4 separate regions of the Homo sapiens genome follow, and regions 2, 3 and 4 are each linked to region 1. The links come from fine-mapping of genetic effects on gene expression. A gene starts in region 1. Each other region holds a variant in brackets. All regions are shown on one strand. Distances are from middle to middle.

What was found. PIP is the estimated chance that this variant, and not a neighbour inherited with it, causes the effect.
Region 2: its variant is fine-mapped to the expression of H3-3A in whole blood (TOPMed, PIP above 0.99).
Region 3: its variant is fine-mapped to the expression of H3-3A in cerebellar hemisphere (GTEx, PIP above 0.99).
Region 4: its variant is fine-mapped to the expression of H3-3A in cerebellar hemisphere (GTEx, PIP above 0.99).

The regions. Positions count from the first base shown.
Region 1 is chr1:226,060,314-226,065,462 of GRCh38, forward strand. H3-3A (H3.3 histone A) reads left to right here and starts at 2,403. Exons shown (of 4, transcript NM_002107.7): 1 at 2,403-2,498; 2 at 4,016-4,166. The coding sequence starts at 4,039. It overlaps H3-3A-DT (H3-3A divergent transcript), which reads right to left and starts at 2,182. Exons shown (of 2, transcript NR_185887.1): 1 at 677-2,182. RefSeq lists silencers at 1,522-2,371, 1,958-2,123, 2,742-2,811 and an enhancer at 4,005-4,074.
Region 2 is chr1:226,321,397-226,326,545 of GRCh38, forward strand. No RefSeq gene overlaps it. Among named protein-coding and RNA genes, the nearest start is that of LIN9, 15 kb to the left of the region's middle. The variant C/T (reference allele first, on the strand shown) is at 2,142.
Region 3 is chr1:226,034,846-226,039,994 of GRCh38, forward strand. No RefSeq gene overlaps it. Among named protein-coding and RNA genes, the nearest start is that of H3-3A-DT, 25 kb to the right of the region's middle. The variant T/C (reference allele first, on the strand shown) is at 2,322.
Region 4 is chr1:226,095,465-226,100,613 of GRCh38, forward strand. No RefSeq gene overlaps it. Among named protein-coding and RNA genes, the nearest start is that of LINC01703, 14 kb to the left of the region's middle. The variant A/C (reference allele first, on the strand shown) is at 2,410.

The DNA of each region.
Region 1 (5,149 bases):
GGTTGGTCTCAAACTCCTGATCTCAAGTGATCCACCCACCTCGGCCTCCCAAAGCGCTGGGATTACAGATGTGAGCCATTGTGCTGGGCCTGAGTTCTAGTAAAGCCAATTCAGGACTGACCCGTAGGGCCCTGTGAGAATCCCTTCTTGCTCTGGCACCTCTCCTTCCCCATTATCTAGACTCTACAGTTCACCTCTCTCATTAGCTATAGTTTTTGCCAATCTTGGGGCTCCAAAGTCCCTCTTTCTTTACCCCCTCCTGGTGCTACTTCCCTGTGCAAAGCAGTGCTTCCAGAGATCATAAGCCCCATGAGGGCAGGAACACTGCTTGTGTTATTCACTGCTGCATTCCCAGCACCCCTGAATTGTGCTGAGCAGAGTTGGCACTCAATAAATATTCATTCAGTGAGAAAACTTCCTGAAGCCACTAGGAGGGTAACCAGTCACCTCTCCAGGTGCTTAAATACTTGAACCTACTAGAAAGAATTTGTGGCCTAACTTCATAGAGATAAATATTATTATTCCCATTTCACAAATGGACAGACAGCTGAGTTAGTTCAAATCATCTAAGATCATAATTACTCTACCTAAAATGGTCTGACCCTTGGTTAGAAATATTTTTTAAAGCCAAGAAGTAGAAGCTATTGAAAAATCCAGCATACAAAGAAAACATTACCCATGTCATTTAACATTTCTTGAAGATATGATGCATTTAACTAATGCAGAACAGCCTTCCTGGATAAATCCAACAATAAATATTTCGGTTTCCTGAAAACAAAACAAAAAACAAGCAAAATAACTCATCTTGGCTTGAATTATAGGAAATTCTTTGCTGGCAGCTCGGTCCAAGCTGATTGCATATGTGCTTTTAGGATAGGATTAGAGATTGCATGTGTTCTGCACAGCAACCATGGACACTTAACATTCATGAAATAATAATGAAACGGGAGGCCTGGATTTTTGTCTGTTTGTTTCTCCTAGGTCTCTTCCTCACTTAAGTGACCTTGGACAAATCCATTTCTTCCCTCGTATCTGATTTCCATGTATCTGTTTCGGGATAATGTTTATCACTAAGCCGCTTTGTGAGATCTTCAGATTACAAATAATTACTGCCCTTCATTTATGAAATTTTCCTCCTTCACTACCCTACGGGATATTTGCATGACCCTTCCATTGAAAACCTTTACACACAGTTGTGAAGCGTCAATACCATCTAGGGACGGTTCAGAGGTTCCAAAGCCAATCAACTGACAAGTCGTGAGGATAACTTGGGCCATGAAAAGTCCGTTTCCTATGCTACTGAGAATTGGAAAACAGGTATATGTACTAATTCCCAAACCACGTTTGCCTTCTTTCTGCCGTTTTCAGCCTCTTCTAAACTATGCAGAAGCTGCGGACATTTGACTATCTATATTCGGCAATTCCTTTCCAAAGCAATCCTACCGAAAACAGATCACACGGCCCCCACGGGCGGGCAGGACAAGCCACCAGGCCCTGGTGCAGGAGCTGCGCGCTCCACACATTGTTTAGAGGCCGACGCGACACAGCCATCTTGCGTCGGGGGCCCGGGCCCGGGAGGAGAGCGAGCCCCGTCCCCTGATCCCGGAGGCCAACACCGGCGAGGGGCTGCCCTGCACGCAGGCGGCCGGCCCAGGAGTCTTAGCGGATCAAGTTGTCTACGGCGGACTCGGGCCGGTCCCGCAGGACCCGGCCGCACTTGGCCGAGCGCGCAGGCGGGAAGGAGGCCGTCGGTCCGCCCCTCCCGCTGCCGCAGCGGCCAGGTCCGACAGCGGGCGCGGGACGCTGGATTCCTATTTGCCAGCTTCCTGCTGGGGAGCGTTTTCCAATGGGGCGCGGCGACCCGGCCGACCGCGTCCTCCTCCCCCACTGCCGCCCGGGTCTCCTCGGGGGCGCGCGCCGGGGCCCGCGCGGGGGCAGCCCCTCCCTCCCCTCCCCGCCGCGGCCCGAGACGCCCGCAGGCCGGGCGTTCACCCGCCGCGCCTCCGCCCGCCTTCCCCTCCCCCCACTTCCCTCCGGGCGCCCCAAACCCGGGCTTCGGGGGTTCGACGCCGTGCGCACACGGAGCGGGATGGGAGTGCAGGGCCGGGGGCGGGGGCTGGCCGGGTGCGGGCGGCAGTCTCGGCGGGAGCCGGCGGCCCCTCAGCGTGTCTTTTGTGTTTGTACACACACGGCGCGAGGCGGCCTGGAGGAGGGAGCGGGCGGCGCGCGGGGGAGGGGCGAGCGCGCGCCAGCGAACGGGCGCGCGGGGGGAAGGGCGGGGGCGGGGCGCGAGAGGAGCTATGGGGGCGGGGCCGAGCCTTCCCTCCATTGTGTGTGATTGGCTGGCGCGCGGCGCGGGGGCGGGGCGGCGTGTGTTGGGGGATAGCCTCGGTGTCAGCCATCTTTCAATTGTGTTCGCAGCCGCCGCCGCGCCGCCGTCGCTCTCCAACGCCAGCGCCGCCTCTCGCTCGCCGAGCTCCAGCCGAAGGAGAAGGGGGGTAAGTTTCCCCGTCTGCCCGCTTCCCCGGAACCGAGCCCCGCTTGCCGTCAGCCCCGAGCCGGGCCCTGGCGGTGCCGGGAGGGGACCCATAGCCCCTCCGGCTTAGCCCACAAACTTTTTGGCCCAGAAATGGAGGTGAGGAGCGAGTTTCCCTGTTCCCTCTGGCGGCGGCGGCTCCCCCGTCTCTCGCCGCCTCAGCCCAACAGCAGCAACCGCCGCGGCGCCGAGCCTGCTCTCCCTCCTCCTCCCCGCGCCCCTGGCTCCTCTTTCTTCGGTGAAATCCCGCCCGCCGCCCCTTCCCCGGACCCCAAACCTTCACCATGACCCGCGCGGGCCTCTTAACTACCGCCCCCGGGCCCCAGCCCCCAGTTTTCGAGCGGGAAAGGGGTGGAAATCGCCGCCGCTTCGCACCCTGGGGTAACTCGCTTTTTGCTGCCTCCCCACAGTTGTTGCTAAGCTTCACCATCTTGTCTCTCTTCTCTGGTCACCGACCATATTTTTTCCCCCGTTTCTCTCTTCCCCATTTCAAAAAAGCAAGAATTTTTAAAAGAGGGACGTTTTTTTCCCTTTTTTGGAGAGGCGGAAACTTGATGCATTTGAAATGCAAAAAAAACTTTTGCATTTTGGAGGGCGGCACGTGGCAGGGGATAGGGGTATTTTCGAGCGATTTGGTGTTTTGTCTCTTTGGAACGGAATCGGATACGTTTTGCGATTGTTTCCATTTTGTTCTGGTCGGGGAGCCGAGTTGGTTCCTGCTCGAGGCGCTGGGAGCGAGGCGGGCAGGTTGGGGGACCCTGTGCCGAGGGACCCGAAGGAGGCAAAACCAAAAGTTTATGTGGTGCTTGGGGTGGACCGGTCGGCGGATGTCGTGCGTTAATTAAAGCCTGGGTGCGGGGCACTTTTTATTTCACTGCGAAGCCTGTGAGGACTGGACGCGAGGACGGGGCTTTGTAGAATGCTCGCTGGTGGTAGCTGTTGTTCCTCTCTTGTTTTTTCGAGACGCCTTTTTGTCAACATAACTGTAAAGATGCAAAACCAAGAATATTTTCAGATATTTACAGCAATCCATCAACAGTCAGACGAAGGGGGGGCAGCCAAAGTGGGGGGGAGTAAGACCTTTTTTTTGCTGTAATTTGACTCGACCTTCCAGTGGTTTGTGCCTTTTTTCTTTTGACTTGTTTGTGGATGGAATGTTTACAGACATTTCTAATTACTGCTTTAATTAAATAAATTGGATCAAAGGCCGTTCGAGGTATTTTTGTTTTGCCGTTTGTCGCTCAGAATTGGCATTTTGAGAGGTGATTGATACTGCTAACAATTTTCTAGTACTCTAGTTTGTTTCAAGAAGAGATTTTGGGTAGACGTAATCTTCACCCTTTCAAATTATATAACAATACGAACATTATTTTTTATACTGATCATAATTTCCAGATTTGGGGAGGGGGTGATCGTGGCAGGAAAAGTTGTATGTTTGGTAGTTGCATATGGTGATTTTTGATTTTTCAATGCTGGTAGGTAAGTAAGGAGGTCTCTGTACCATGGCTCGTACAAAGCAGACTGCCCGCAAATCGACCGGTGGTAAAGCACCCAGGAAGCAACTGGCTACAAAAGCCGCTCGCAAGAGTGCGCCCTCTACTGGAGGGGTGAAGAAACCTCATCGTTACAGGTATTAAAAAACAGGAAAAAAATGGGACAAAGTCTCTCTTGTATGTATCCACATAATTTAACAAAAAGATGGATAACAGGAAAACTTTTTGCTTTAGAGAAACTTTTTTTTTTCATTTGAACACTTAACTACTGCTTAAATAAATGTACTGTATGATCATTTATATATAAAGTTAAGTATTAGGTTTTATTGAAAACGTTTAACTTTGAAGCCATAATCTTACCTGGAGGTCTAAGGAGACCTCGTATATCACTGATAATGTTAATGGGATATATTGACATTTTAGTTAACTATTAGTAATTCTTTAAAAATAGTTAAGTGTTGCTTTCTTGAATACACTTTTGAGGTTATCTTTCCTAGTTTTTGGCAAAATAATAATATAATCGAGATTGGGTGTTTTATAAAGTTCCTACCCCCTCATTTACTTGATTAGCTTATTTCCTTCTGTATTAGCTCTTTTGATTGTGAACTACCTGAGCCACTGTGTTGTTAAGGGCATCTGCCATTAGAGGGCAGAAGTTGCCTAGACTTAGCCTCCGCAAATATTACGATTAACCTAAAATAAAAGCTCATACAGTGGAAGAAATAAGTCAGAATGAGAGGTAAATTTCTTGCTGACAATTACTTAGTAAAAAAAACTTTTCCACGTGGAAGGAACACTGCACAATCGGGTGTATTCAAATTTAATAGTTGATGAGGGGTGAACTGTAGTCAGGGTAGAGGTATTCTGGGAAATAGAACTTGAATGCCACAAGCAGATTTTTAAATGAAGTTCATTGGGTTGTGTTGGTCATCTTTAAGGGCTCTTAAGATAATAGAGGGTGTAGGGAAGGAGAGTGGTGCTAAATTGAGGGGAGCCAACTTCTTCATTAGCCTGACAGCTAATACCTTCCCAAGGTTTATATACATGAATAACTTTTTAAAATGAAAATAAATAGGGCTTTGATGAATTTCTTGCTAAGAATGCATTTTAATTTCATGCT
Region 2 (5,149 bases), 260 kb after region 1:
GACACACCGTTTTTGTGACTTCTTAACACTCAACACCAACGTCCGCAGCTTCATTCTTGAAGTCAGTGAGACCAAGAACCCACCGGAAAGAACCGACTCCGGACCCACTGGCCTCAAGGGATCCTTCTGCCTCAGTCTCCCAAAGTGCTGGAGCCGCCGTGTTCAGTCCACTGTACAGGGTTTCATTTTGGGGTGATGAAAATGTCTTGTAATTGGCCGGGTGTGGTGGCTCACGCCTGTGATCCCAGCACTCTGGGAGGCTGAGGAGGGTAGATCACTTGGGGAGAGGAGTTCAAGACCGGCCTGACCAATACGGTGAAACCCTGTCTGTTTTAAAAATACAAAAATTAACTGGGTGTGGTGGTGGGCAGTGGTAATGCAGATACTCGGGAGGCTGAGGCTGGAGAATCACTTGAACCTGGGAGGCAGAGGCTCAGTGAGTTGAGATCGTGCCACTGCATTCCAGCCCGGGTGACAGCAAGAATCCGTCTCAAAAAAAAGTCCTGAAATCAACCCTGGTGGTTGCACAACTCTGTGCATACAGTAGTCCCCACTTCTCCAGAGTTTCTCTTGCCGTGGTTTCATTTACCCATAAACAACTGAGGTCCGAAAAGAGATGAGTACAGTATAAGATATTTAGAGACACAGTTACAATATACAGTAACTTGTATTACAGTATACATTTGTTACAGTATATTGCTGTGATTGCTCTGTTTTATTATTATTTTTGAGACAAGGTCTGTCATCCAGGCTGGAGTGCAGGGGTGCAATGATGGCTCACTATAGCCTGGACCTCCCCAGGCTCGGGTGATTTTGCTACCTCAGCCTCCATAGTAGCTGGGACCACTGGCATGCATCACCACACCCAGCAATTTTTGTATATTTTATAGAGATGGGGTTTTGCCATGTTGCCCAGGCTGGTCTTGAACTCCTGGGCTCAAGCAGTCTGCTTGCCCTGGCCTCCCAAAGTGCTGGGGTTACATGCGTGAGCCGCTGTGCCCAGCCTGTTCTATTTTATTATTAGTTATTGTTGTTAATCTCTTACTTTGCTAATTTACAAATTAAACTTTATCGTAGGTATGTATGTATAGAGAAAACAGTATATATAGGATTCAGTACTATCGTCAGTTTCAGGCATCCAATGGGGGTCCTGGAATGTATCCCCCAGGGTTAAGTGTGAACTAGTATATACTAAAAACTATAGAATTGTGTATTTTAAATAGGTGAATTGTGGTCTGTGAAGTATAACTCAATAAATGTGTTACAAGGAAAATCTTGTTTTCAGACTAGGTTTTATCCCAATCTTAAAATCTTTGGTAGTCGTTTTGTGCTAGACCCCTTCCTAGGCACTTAATGAAGATGTGAAGTCAAAGAGGCACTCTACTAGGCAATTTTATTTATTTATTTATTTATTTATTTATTTTTTGAGACGGGGTCTCACTCTGTTGCTCAGGCTGGACTGCAGTGGGGCAATCACAGCTCCTGCAGCCTCAACCTCCCAGGCTCAAGCCACATCCTCCCACCTCGGACTGCCAAATAGCTGGGACTGCAGAGGCACGCTACTACAGGGGCACACTATTTTTTGTAGAGACAGGGTTTTGCCATGTTGCCCAGGCTGGTCTAGAACTCCTGAGCTCAAGCAATCCGCCCTCAGTCTCCCAAAGTGATGGGATTACCGGCACTTGGCCTGTTCAGAATTTCTTAAATGAATTAGCACATATAAGCTAGAGGAGCCCACCAGCCCAGGCTACCCAAGGAGGAATACCTTGTCATCAGAACTGCCCAAACCAGAAAGATTGGATGACTCAACACAGTGCAGATTTGTGAATTCTAACCCAGAAAGATTGCCCCTTCAGGACCTGTATGTGTCCAAGGAAACATTAAGAGTTTAATAGCCTGGGCAACATAGTCAAACTCTGCCTCCACAAAAATTAGCTGGGTGAGGTGGTGTGCGCCTGTAGTCCCAGCTACACAGGAGGCTGAGGTGTGAGGATCAGTTGGGCTGGGGAGGTTGAAGCTCCAGTGAGCTATGATTGCACCACTGCAGTCCAGCCTGGGAAACAGAGCAAGACCCTGTCTCAAAAAAAAAAAAAAAAAAAAAAGAAAAGAAAAAGGTTTATAGTCATCAATTCTGCTGTCTT[C/T]TCATAACCCCTAGTATTCTAGGCAATTTAATAGGGTACGATTATTCAGTAATTGGCCAGCAAATACTTATTAATTAAGCACCTACTATGTGGCAGGAACTAAGGTTGCAAAATTCAATGTGACATAGTGCCTCGCAGAGCTTTCAGTCTAAGGGAAGACACAGACACATTCCATAAGCAATTGCAATAGTTTGACAGTAGCTGTCCTAGGGCTGAGGTCAAGATACTGTAGGAGCATAGTGGAGTGCGGGATGTAGGGGAGGAAAAGAAATATTTTTTCCTTGATCATCACTGGGTTTGTGGCTGAAGCCCCTATAACAAAAGATAGTTTAACAAGAAAAGTATACACATTTATTTATTTAAGTTTCATGCGACATGGGAGACTTTAAAAGGAAATGGCTGGGTGCAGTGGCTCGCGCCTGTAATGCCTCGGGAGACTGAGGTGGGCTGATCACCTGAGGCCAGGAGTTTGAGACCAGCCTAGCCAAGATGGCGAAACCCAGTCTCTACTAAAATTACAAAAATTAGCTGGGTGTGGTGGCATGCGCCTGTAATCCCAGCTACTTGGGAGGCTGAGGTAGGAGAATCGCTTGAACCCGGGAGGCAGAGCTTGCAGTGATTCAAGAGCAAGCCACTGCACTCCAGCCCAGACAACAGAGCAAACCTCCGTCTCAAAAAAACAAAAAAAGGAAATGGCCCAAACAAACAGGTAAATCTGTGTATATTTTATGCTAGGTTTGATGGAGAAGTGGATGGTCCTGGAAAAATATAATTGGATAAAAAGTATGATCTAATGTTAATAAAGTGTGAGGGGACCACTTAGCAAGACCTATTTGTTCCGATTTTTCTTTGTGTCTCTGTGTGTTCAGAGATAAGGATGTCCCTTTCCTCTAGGTATAGGGAGGGACCTCTCCAATGAGGTCTCATGACCTGCTTCAAGGGAGAAGGCTGAGAGGAAGATGAGATGGACCTACTTGCTTCTGCTGTTTTCTCAAATACCAAAGTGCTGTATTTGTGGGTAGCATGTCCTGAACTTAATCAGAGGTTGATAGGGGGTGAGGTAAGAAATGTTTCCCAGTCTTTGAACTGAGACCTGAAGGCTGAGTAGAAGTTAGAGAGAGGAAGTGGAAGAAGAAAGTACTATGATTGGCAGAAAGTCATGTGCAAAGGCCCAGGGGAAAGAAAGAACAGAGCTTTTATCCCAGGAACTTTAAGTAGTTGAGGATAGTTGAAGAGTTTAAAATTAGATGTGGCAAAAGCTAAGACTCAAGAGATAAACAGGGGCCTCACAAGTATAGAGGGCTTTTGAAACCTTTCCTGAAATGGGTTTTGATACCTATGGAGGTGCACCACTGCTAGTCAGGGTTCTCTAGAGAGAGAGAACCAACAGGGGATGATTAGATAGATAGATAGATAGATAGATAGATAGATAGATAGATACATACATACATACATACATACATACATACATATACAGACAGAGGAGAAGGGATTTATTAGGGAATTGGCTCACATGATTCTGGAAGCTGAGAAGTCCCATGACAGGCCATCTGCAAGCTGGAGACCCTGGGATGCTGGTATTGTGGCTCAATCCAAGTCAAAAAGTCTTAGAACCAGGGATGCCAATGGTGTAATTCTCAGCCCAAGCCCCAAAGCCTGAGAACCTGGTGGGGTGGGTGGTGCTCATGTAAGCCCTAGAGTCTCAAGGCTGGAGAGCCTGGGGTCCTGATATCCAAGGACAGGAGGAGAAGAGTAGGTCCCAGCTCCAGGAGAGAGAGGAAATCCTTTTCTCTCCTTTTTTTGTTCTATCTTGGCCCCCAGCCAATTGGTTGGTGCCCAGCCACATTGAGGGAAGATCTTCCCCTCTTAGTCCACTGACTCACACGCCAGTCTGCTCTGGAAACCCAGACAGACACACCCAGAAGGAATGTTTTACCATCTCTGTAGGTGTTCCTTAATCCAATCCAGTTGACACCTAACCTTAACCATCACAGCCACTGAGATCTCCAGCCTCCAACTGCTGTCCCTAAGCTCTGCCACAGTATTCATATCAACACCATGCTCTCCCCAGGCTGCTCCTAGCCAATAACTGCGCATGGCAGAGCTGCTCAAACCAGCCCATTCCATGCCTCCTCTAATGGGCTTTCTTGGCTGTGGGGGCTCCTGTGTGGTCTGGTCAGGATAGGCTGCACGCTTACCTGTAGAGCTGCCTGGAGCCTGATGGTGACCCTTGGCCAACACTATGGAATATATCAAATGATGTTCTGTAACCATCGGTCTGTGGATTGTTTGGGGAACAGGACATACCAGCCCATCAGCACTGTTTAATAATTGTTTCTTTGATGGAGCCTGGAGGATTTCAATATTAAGGCTGGTCATGGAGCTAAAACATGCCTATGTGACCAGTTCACTCCAAGAGATCCCACCATGAGTGAGCTTTGGACTTCCTGGTATGTACACACATGACGGTTCAAGACCTGAACGTGTAGCACAGGCAGTGGGAGTCAGCAGAGACAGAACAAAGAAGCCTGTGCCTGAGATCTGTAGCCCCTTCTTTGCATAACGTTGCCTGCTGTTACCATACTGTATCCTTTGCCTGTTAAAAACTGATATGTGAGGGCTGGGCTGGGTGGCTCACGCCTGTAATCCCAGCACTTTGGGAGGCTGAGGAAGGTGGATCATGTGAAGTCTGGAGTTCAAGACCAGCCTGGCCAAGATGGTGAAACCCTGTCTCTACTAAAAATACAAAAATTAGCTGGGCATGGTGGTGCACACCTGTAATCCCAGCTACTCGAGAGGCTGAGGTGGGAGAATTGCTTGAACCCGAGAGGTAGAGATTGGGGTGAGTCGAGATCTGCCACTGCACTCCAGCCCGGGTGACAGAGTGAGACTCTCAAAAAACAAAACAAAACAAAACAAAACTGGTCTGTATGAGTATAGAAACTGTTGGAGTCCTGTGAGTCCTTTCAGCAAGCAAACATGGAAGGTAATCAGAGCATGATGAACAC
Region 3 (5,149 bases), 25 kb before region 1:
CAGCATAGGAAACAAATATGCTCCCTTATCCTATAAGCCTCCAATCTGAGCAAGATGGCCTCAGCCCTTCTGCTTTTTCTTCTGATAACCTTTACTCCATGTCCGCTAATGAGCAATTCTTTTTTATCTTATTTTATTTTATTTATTTTATTTTTTTAAGACAGGGTCTCTGTCTGTTGCCCAGGCTGGAGTGCACTGGCATGATCATAGCTCACTGCAGCCTCGACCCTGGCTCAAGTGATCGTCCAACCACAGCTTCCCGAGTAGCTGGCACCACAGGTGTGTGCCACCACACCCGGATTTTTATAGGTTTTTTTCTTTTCTTTCTTTGTTTTTTTTTTTGTAGATGCGGGGTCTCACTATGTTCCCCAGGCTGGTTATGAACTCCTGGCCTCAAACGATCCACCTCGGCCTCCCGAAGTGTTGGGATTACAGGTGTGAACCACCACGCCCGGCAGCAATTCTTAGGGTTTAAATAAACGTATTGCTTTTTTCTCTTATTAGGAAAGTAAGACATATTCATTGTAAGGCATATAATATATATAAGCAAAAAAAGGAAAAAAAACAACCAATGCTGTTCATCTAACTTTTTGTTAGGTAAGTTCAGACTTTCTTCTGGAGAGTTCTCTCTGTCTTTAAGTTCTATATTCTCTTTGATCCCTACTATGAAAGAACTTTTACCCAAATATAAATGTATAATTAGAAAAGATTGTATTTATATGGCTTGTTCTTGACCTTTTCCAAAGAGGTGTACACTGAAAATGCCCATATAATTGAGAAAGGCATTATTCCCAGGGGGAAAATTTCCATGGACATAGTAAAGCCATTATCCAGCTTTGTTCAGAGGGATTCTCATCCTACCTGAGGAGGAAAGAGGTGCCAAGCATTTGGGACCATTGAGTCCAAACTTCTTTTGAGTAAATAAAGGGCTTTTGCATTTAGCATGTAGGTGCTGAATTCAGCAAAGGAGGCACAGCAGAGACAGAGGAGCTCTCTGTATCTTCCTTCACCTTTTTACTTCCCTCTTTGCCTGTGGGCAGCAGTGAAAGAAGAATCTCCTGCTGGCTCTAAGACTCCCAGGGAATAGCCCCAAGGTTTTTCCCTCTTCCTTTCTCACTTTCCTTCTTTCTGCTGCTCACAGAGCAGTTCCAATTCTACCAATTCTACCATGATGTAGTCTCCATGAGGCCTCTTGCCAATAGGAAAAACTCCTCCCCTTCCTACTGCACTTGTGCTCCTTTCTGGAGCATCACTGGGTGTTTTCAGTTCACCCAAGTGTTCATTTAACAAACACCAGGTAGGCCGGGTGCAGTGGCTCATGCCTGTAATCCCAGCACTTTGGGAGACGGAGGCGGGTGGATCACAAAGTCAGGAGTTCAAGACTAGTCTGGCCAACATGGTGAAACCCCGTGTCTACTAAAAATACAAAATTTATCTGGGTGTGGTGGCTCAATTTTTTTGAGACGGAGTTTCACTGTTGTTGCCCAGGCTGGAGTGCAGTGGCACGATCTCGGCTCACTGCAACCTCCGCCTCTCGGGTTCAAGTGATTCTCCTGCCTCAGCCTCCCAAATAGCTAGGATTACAGGCATGTGCCACTGAGCCCAGCTAATTTTTGTATTTTTAGTAGAGACAGGTTTCACCATGTTGGCCAGGCTGGTCTCGAACTCCTGACCTCAAGTGATCCACCCACCTTGGCCTCCCAAAGTGCTGGGAATAGAGGTGTGAGCCACTGTGCCAGGCCAATTTACATGCAATTATAAGAGACAGTACAATCCTGTCTCTATAAAAAAGAAAATAATTAGCCAAGCATGGTGGTACATGCCTGTAGCCCTAGCTACTTGGGAGGCTGAGATAGGAAGATCACTTGAGCCTGGGAGGTTGAGGCTTCAGTGGGCTGTGATCACACCACTGCACTCCAGTTTGGGTGACAGAGCAAGACCCTATCTCAAAAAAAAAAAAAAAAAAAAGGGAGATAATATAGAATCACAATGTCTTACAATTTCACACTTACTAGGATGGCTGTAATTAAAAAAAAAAAAAAACCAGACAATAACAAATGTTGGTAAGGATGTGGAGAAATCAGACCCCTCAGACATTGCTTATGGAAATGCAAAACAGTGCCACCCCTTTGAAAAAAGCTTGGTGATTCCTTAGAAAGTTAAACACAGAGGGCCGGGCACGATGGCTCACGCCTGTAATCCCAGCACTTTGGGAGGCCAAGGCAGGTGGATCACGACGTCAGGAGTTCGAGACCAGCCTGACCAACACGGTGAAACCCCGTCTCTACTAAAAATACAAAAATTAGCTGGGCGTGGTGGCG[T/C]GCACCTGTAATCCCAGCTACTCAGGCCTCAGGCTGAGGCAGGAGAATCGCTTGAACCCGGGAGGCAGAGGTTGTAGTGAGCCGAGATCACGCCACTGCACTCCAGCCTGGGCGACAGAGTGAGACTCCATCTCAAAAAAAAAAAAAAAAGAAAAAGAAAGTTAAACATACAGTTACTATATGACTCCGCAATTCCACTCCTAGGTATAAATACCTAAGAGAATTAAAAACACATGTTCACACAAAAACTAGTACATGAATGTCCACAGCAGCATTATTCATAGTAGCCAAGAAGTAGAAACAACCCAAATGTCCATCAACTTATGAATATGATAAATAAAATGCAGAAGTAGACCCATACAATGAAGTATTATTTGGCTGTAAAAAGAAATGAAGTGCAGACACATTTTATAAAATATTAATAGATGGATTTTGAAAACCTTGTGCTAAGTGACAGAAGCCAGACACAAGGCCACATATTGTATGATTCCATTAATATGAAATATCTAGAGTAGGCAAATCCAGAGACAGAAAGTAGATTAGTGGCTGCCAGGAGCTGGGGGAGAGGGGAACAGGGAGTAACTAATAATGGATACAGGGTTTCTTTTGGGGGTGATGAAGAGGTTCTAAAATTAGATAGTGCTGAAGTTGCACAACTTTGTAAATATGTTAAAAACCACTAAATTTTACACATTAAAAAGGTAAATATTACGTGAATTTTATCTCAATAAAATTTATTGAAAAAAGAAATATGCAGAGAGATCCTGCGTACCCTTCACCCATTTCCCCCCAATGGTAACATCTTATATAACTATTGTACAATATCACAGCCAGGAAACTGACATTGATAGAACCCTTCGCCATTACTCAGATGTCATCAATTTTTAGTTTTTTAGTATTTAGTTCTTTTTTTTTTTGAGATGGAGTCTCACTCTGCTGCCCATGCTGGAGTGCAGTGGCGCGATCTCGGCTCACTGCAACCTCCACCTCCAGGGTTCAAGTGATTCTCCAGCCTCAGTCTCCTGCGTAGCTGGGATTACAGGCATGTGCCATCACACTCAGCTAATTTTAGTATTTTTAGTAGAGATGGGGTTTCACCATGTTGGCCAGGCTGGTCTTGAACTTCTGACCTCAAGTGATATGCCTGCCTCAGCCTCCCAAAGTGCTGGGATTACAGGCATGAGCCACCATACCCAGCCACTCATGTGTGTGTATTTGGTTCTAAGCAAGTTTACATGTGTGGATTCACGTGACCACCACCAAACTCAAGATGAAGAACAGTTCCACCACACAGACCCCTTATGCTACCTTTTTATGGCCACAGTCACTCTTCCCTTCTACCTGACCCCTGATCTGTTTTCTATCTCTATACATTTATTGTTTCAAGAATATTATCTAAAACGAATCACACAGTATGCAACTTGAGATTGGCTTTTTTCACTCAGCAAAATTCTCTGGAGATCCATCCAGATCGTCATGTGTATCAATAATTCCTTCCCTTTTATTGCTGAGTAGTATTCCATGGTATGAATGTACCATAGTTTATTGAACCTTCCACCATTAAAGGACATTTCAGTTGTTTCCAGTTTGGGGCAATTAGGAATAAAGCTATTGTGAACAGTTATGACCAGGAACATAAAAACTTTCATTTCTCTGGGTAGATGCCCAGGAGTGTAATTGCTGCATCATATGGCAGGTGCATATTTAATATTGTAAGAAGCAGTCATATTCTTTGCTAGAGTGGCCATGCCATTTTATTTTCCTACTGGCAATATGTGAGTGATCAAAGTTCTCTCTATCCTCACCAGCATTTAATGGTGTCATTATTTTTTATTTCAGTCATTCGGATCATACATATACTTTTTACAAGTTAGACAAACATGCACCATACTCTTGACAGCGGTGGTTTCTAGTGTATGTATGGGTTAATTCAATGGAAGACTCTCCTTTATATATTATATACTTTTGTAGTTTTTTGTTTTTGTTTTTGTTTTTTTTTGACAGAGTCTTACTCTGTCACCCAGGCTGGAGTGCAGTGGCACGATCTCGGCTCATTGCAAGCTCCACCTCCCGGGTTCACGCCATTCTCCTGCCTCAGCCTCCCGAGTAGCTGGGACTACAGGCACCCGCCACCACGCCCAGCTAATTTTTTGTATTTTTAGTAGAGACGGGGTTTCACCGTGTTAGCCAGGATGGTCTCAATCTCCTGACCTCGTGATCCGCCCACCTTGGCCTCCCAAAGTGCTGGGATTACAGGTGTGAACCACTGCGCCTTTTTTTTTTTTTTTTTTTTTGCGACAGAGTCTTGCTCTGTCACCCAGAGTGGAGTGCAGTGGCACAATTCGGCTCACTGCAACCTCCGCCTCCCGGATTCAAGCGATTCTCCTGCCTCAGCTCCCGAGTAGCTGGGATTACAGGCATCTGCCACCATGCCTGGCTAATATTTTTAGTAGAGACGGGGTTTCACCATGTTGGCCAGGCTGGTCTCGAACTCCTGACCTCTGGTGATCCGCCTGCCTAGGCCTCCCAAAGTGCTAGGGGCATGAGCCACCACGACCGGCCTGTAGTGTTCAAATTTTACATAACTTAATGTTGTACTTGTAATCTAAAACGCAATAAGGATTTTAAAAAGTTGGCCAGGCACAGTGGCTCACGCCTGTAATCCCAGCACTTTGGGAGGCTGAGGCAGGCGGATCACCTGAGGTCAGGAGTTTGAGACCAGTCTGGTCAACATGGTGAAACCCCGTCTCTACTAAAAGAACAAAAATTAGCCAGGCATGGTGGTGCATGCCTGTAATCCCAGCTACTCGGGAGGCTGAGGCAGGAGA
Region 4 (5,149 bases), 35 kb after region 1:
TCTGCACCTCAGAGAGGCAGCAGGGACTGTGGGCAGGGACCTCCAGGCCATAAGGAGCTGGAGGGAGTCCTAGAGGGTGGAGGGAGCGAAAGCAGGCCAGAGAGGCAAAGGGGCAGGAGACATGTGAGGGCATTCTAGGTGTGGGGAATGGCTTATGCCACTGTCCAGGTGCATGAACCTATCAGGGAGTTGGGGAAGACAAAACTCTTGGTAGTGGCTGTAGCAGAGCAATGGTGAAGGAGCCAGTCTGCCGCAGCCACTCTTCAGGACTTTGCTTTCCTGGGGCCAGGTTGCAAACAACCTTGAAGCTTGACCAGGGTATGTGGACCTTATCCTAATTTTTATGGGTTTTGTTTGTTTGTTTAATCAGAGACAGGGTCTCTCTATGTTGCCCTGTTTAGTTTCCAACTCCTAGACTCAAGAGTCCTCCTGCCTCAGCTCCCCAAAGTGCTGGGATTACAGGCATGAGCAGCCTGGCCTATTGGAGGTGGTGTGTGTTTGTTTGTTTGTTTGAGACAGAGTCTAGCTCTGTCGTCCAGGCTGGAGTGCAATGGCACCCTCTCAGCTCACTGCAACCTCTGCCTCCTGGGTTCAAGCAATTCTCCTGCCTCAGCCTCCTGAGTAGCTGGGACTACAGGTGCACACCACCACGCCCAGCTAATTTTTGTATTTTTAGTGGAGATGAGGTTTCATCATGTTGGCCAGGCTGGTCTTGAGCTCCTGACCTCAAGTGATCCGCTCGCCCCCGCCGCGGCCTCCCAAAGTGCTGGGATTACAGGTATGAGCCACTTTGCTTGGCCCCTATCCTAGGTTTTTAAGTAGGGAAGTAACATGATCAAGCTTGTCTTGCTCAGAGCTCCCCTCGGAGGAAAGGCTGGAGGAGGTGACTGAAGCTGTTGCCTTGAGGACCCAGTCTGGTCTCCAGCCTCAGTGCTTCAAGGACAGGGTCCTTGCTGTATAGAGCTACTGGTGATTCAGACACAATCCACCTTGTGTTGCCTGCGGCTGACCTCCACTGGCAGGTGCCCTCTCCCTCTACAGTGGAGGTGTATGCGCTCAGGCAATGCAGGCTCAGCCCAGCTGTGGTCCCCCTGGAGGCAGTGAGCCCTTTGAGAGGTCTGAGCCAGGGGTGGTGGTTCACACCTGTCATCCCAGCAGTTTGGAAGGCTGAGGCTGGAGGATTGCTTGAGGCCAGAAGTTTGAGACCAGCCTAGGGAACATAGCAAACCTATCTCTACAAAAAAAAAAAAAAAAAAAATTAGTCAGATGTGGTGGTGTGTTCCTGTAGTCCTACCTACTCAGGAGGCGGAGGTGGGAGGATTACTTGAGCCCAGGAGTCCGAGGCTGCAGTAAGCTAAGGTTGCATCATTGCACTCCAGCCTGGGCAACACAGCAAGACCCTGTCTCTAAGTAAATAAATAAATACATTTTTTTAAATTAAAAAAAAAAGAGAGGGAAATCCAAGCCAAATCCTCCAGGGGTCAAAGTCCTGCTGTCCTCCCCTGCTCTGCTCAACCCCAGCCTACCTCTGTGTGGGGTGGGGGTGTCGGGGGAACCCATGCCGCTGAGCAAGGAGCTCCCTCAGCTGGTCTATTAGTCAGGTGAGGCTAGGTTCTACCGCAGTAAATCAGCCCCAAACTTCAATGACTTCACACAACAAAGTATATTTCTCAATCATGTTATACGCTCAGTGCAGTGGAGAAAAGAGGATGGAAGGGCAGGGCTCTGTTCCACCTAGGGTCTCAGGGATCCAGGTTGCTAGAAGAGCCACCATCTAGACAATCACCAGTCACCATGGCATGGGAAGAGAGGGCATGGAGAACTTACACCTTTTGATCCAGTAGTGACACATGTAAACCAAAAAGTGACTGAGGCAGGTCTCAATTGATTAGAAGCTTATTTAACCATGATTGAGGATGCAAAAAAACCAACAAAACAAAAACAAGTCACAGAAGCATCTACAACCTGTGATTTTTCCAAGGAAGGTTTCAGGAACTTCAGTATTTGAAGGGGAAAGAGCAAGCAGAAGAGGAAAAAAAAAAAAAAAAAAACGGGGTAAGGGGGCTGGGCGTGGTGGCTCACGCCTGTAATCCCAGCACTTTGGGAGATCCAGGCAGGTGGAGCACCTGAGGCAAGGAGTTCGAGACCAGCCTGGCCAACATGGTGCAAACCTGTCTCTACTACAAATACAAAAATTAGCCAGGCATGGTGATGCATGCCTGTAATCCCAGCTATTTGTGAGGCTGAGGCATGAGAATCACTTGAACCCAGGAGGTGGAGGTTGCAGTAAGCCGAGATCGCTCCACTGCGCTCCTAGAAGGGTAGACAATGAGGCAAATGGATACAATCTTAGGTTCCTATTAGCCTTAGTGAATGTACCTTTTACATGTGAAACAGAGGACCAAGTCA[A/C]TTATGCAAAGTCTTGGGGTAGGAGGAGGGATGATTTCTAGTCTTGTCCTTATCCTGTCCCTGTGAAGATAAGCTGATAATTGACATTGTCAGGGTGAAGTTTAACAGAACTTGATTTTAGAACTAGCTTATAGGGGAATGTGTATTCTGAAAGGTTTAGGGGCCCACAGGGAATTTCCTTGTGAACAATTTGGGAAATATGTAGCCTTCTATTGTTGTGGGAACCTGGCTTACGAATGAGGCTATGACACAGGATTGTGAAACTACCGCTATCTGTTTGGGAACAAAAGGAAGGCAGTTTTTCTGTGACTCAGTTCCCAAACTTAACTTTCCCTTTGGCATAGTGAGTTTGGGGTCCCAAGACTCTGTTTGCTTTCACATATAGGTCACACTTCCGATTATAGCCAATTGGCCAGCACTAGCCCACTGGCCAGCAGCCAGGGTTCTGGAAAGGTAGAAGAGCCCACGGGTACTCAGTGGGCAGTGACTGTCTGTTCAGCCAAGTGCAAGCCAGGTTGGAGAGCAGGTTGGCTCCTGCCTGGACATAGGAAGATGGATGACAAAGGATGCCCAGAAAGGTGTGGGCTCCTTCCCAGTTACCTCCAGCCTCCATCTGCTCTCTGATTCCTAGAGCACAGCTCAGAGAACATCAGTTCCACTTTCCCCCAGCTTACCCAAAATATAGCCCCTACCCATTCTGGCCTCAGCACAACGCTGCCTGATTTCTCTCCACTCTTTCTCCCCTCCCCTCCCCCTGCCCTCCCCATCTCCCCATACCTCCCAGCTCCAACCACACGAGGCTCCCCCTGCTCTGTAATATATACTTTATTTCCTTTACCCCTCCGGGAATGTTCTACCCCTCTCTGCTCACTAGAATCCCACCCATTCTTCCAAATCTAGCTCACTTATCACCTGGTCCATGAAGATTCTTCCCACAGAATATCCTCTGCTTCCTCTCACCTCACAGTCTCCTACAGATGAAATGCCCAGCCCACAGCTCCCCACTGAAGGGGCAGCCCCAGGCAGACCATGTGATCCCATTCCCTATCCCAGCCACAGTGAGGTGGATCCACACGGCCACTCTGTTGCCTGGGCAGTGGCCTATGAGGTGGGGCCTGGTGGGAAGGATGAGATGAGCTAGGTCTATCAAACTCTCTTTAGATAACTTTTTTTTTCTGGAGATAGGGTTTTGCTGTATCACCCAAGTTGGAGTGCTGTAGTGCAGTCAGGGCTCACTGCAGCCTTGAACTCCTGGGCTCAGGCAATCCTACCACTTCAGCCTCCAAAGAAGCTGGAACTATAGGCATGTGCTACCATGCCTGGCTAATTTTTTTAACTTTTTATAGAGACGGCGGGATCTTGCTTATGTTGCCCAGGCTGGTCTGGAACTCCTGGCCTCAAGCAACCTTCCCACCCCAGACTCCCAAAGTGCTGGGATTACAAGTGTAAGCCACTGTGCCAGCCAGCCAGTGTTTTCTTGCTGTGTCCTCAAAGAGAGAAAGGAACTAGTGAGCTCTCTGGGCCTTTCTTATAAGGTCACTAATCCCAGTCATGAGGACTTCACCCTCATCTCATCACTTCTCAAAGGGCCCACCTCATAATACCATCATTTGGGGATTAATCACCTCCTTTGAGAATGAAAGTTAAAAAAAAATTGGGGGTTAAAATTTCCACATACAAGCCAGTCATGGTGGCTCATGCCTATAACCCCAGCACTTTGGGAGGTGAGGTGGGAGGATTGCTTAAGCCCAGGGGTTCCAGACCAGCCTGGGCAACACAGGGAAACCCCATCTCTATAAAAAGTTTTAAAACTAGCCAGCTGTGGTGGCATGCCTGCAGTCCCAGCTACTTGTGAGGCTGAGGTGGGAGGATCACTTGAGTCTGAGAGGTTGAGGCTACAATAAGCCATGACCACATCACTGCACTCCAGCTTGGGTGACAGAGTGAAACCCCATCTCAAAGGAAAAAAAAATTTTTTCAACATATGGATTTGTAGGGGTGGCACAAACATTTAGACCATAGCACATCCAACTCTGTAATTCCTACCTCTGGGCTTTTTATGTAAGAGACAGACACACATAACTGGATTCAAGTTGACTTCATTTCACATAAGCAGTGTCTTCTTAAAGAACAACTTGTCAAATACAATTTTCATTCACTGACTTCCACACTGAGGGAGGATACTGGGTCCTAAACAATGTTTTCCTAAAATATTCTGTGCAAACCAGATTTTAACCAATGTAGTCATTGTTCTCCACTGACTTACTTTATGAATATTAATGATGACTTTTATATTCAGCGTTCACTTCGTGGTGACACCTAGCTAGTGTTTAGTTTTTCAAAAATTTCACTCCTTGGACCATTGGGTAATAACCAGCAAACAACAGGTAAGAGTCCCAAACTGCTGCTTGAAAGAGAAAAATCCCTTTGGAAGACCACGGTAATAACTACTACTAATGTGTGGGGGTTTTGTTTGTTTTTTGTTTTTGTTTTTGTTTTTGTTTTCAGAGGGAGTCTCGCTCTGTCGCCCAGGCTAGAGTGCAGTGGCACCATTTCGGCTCATTGCAACCTCCACCTCCCGGGTTCAAGCGACCCCAGACTCCCGAGTGGCTGCGATTACAAGCACCCGCCACCGCGCCCGGCTGCACTCTAGCCTGGGCAACAGTGCAAGAGTCCGTCTCAAAAAAAAAAAAAAAAGAGTAATAGACTGTATTTCCCGAAGTATATTCATGGCCTTGGA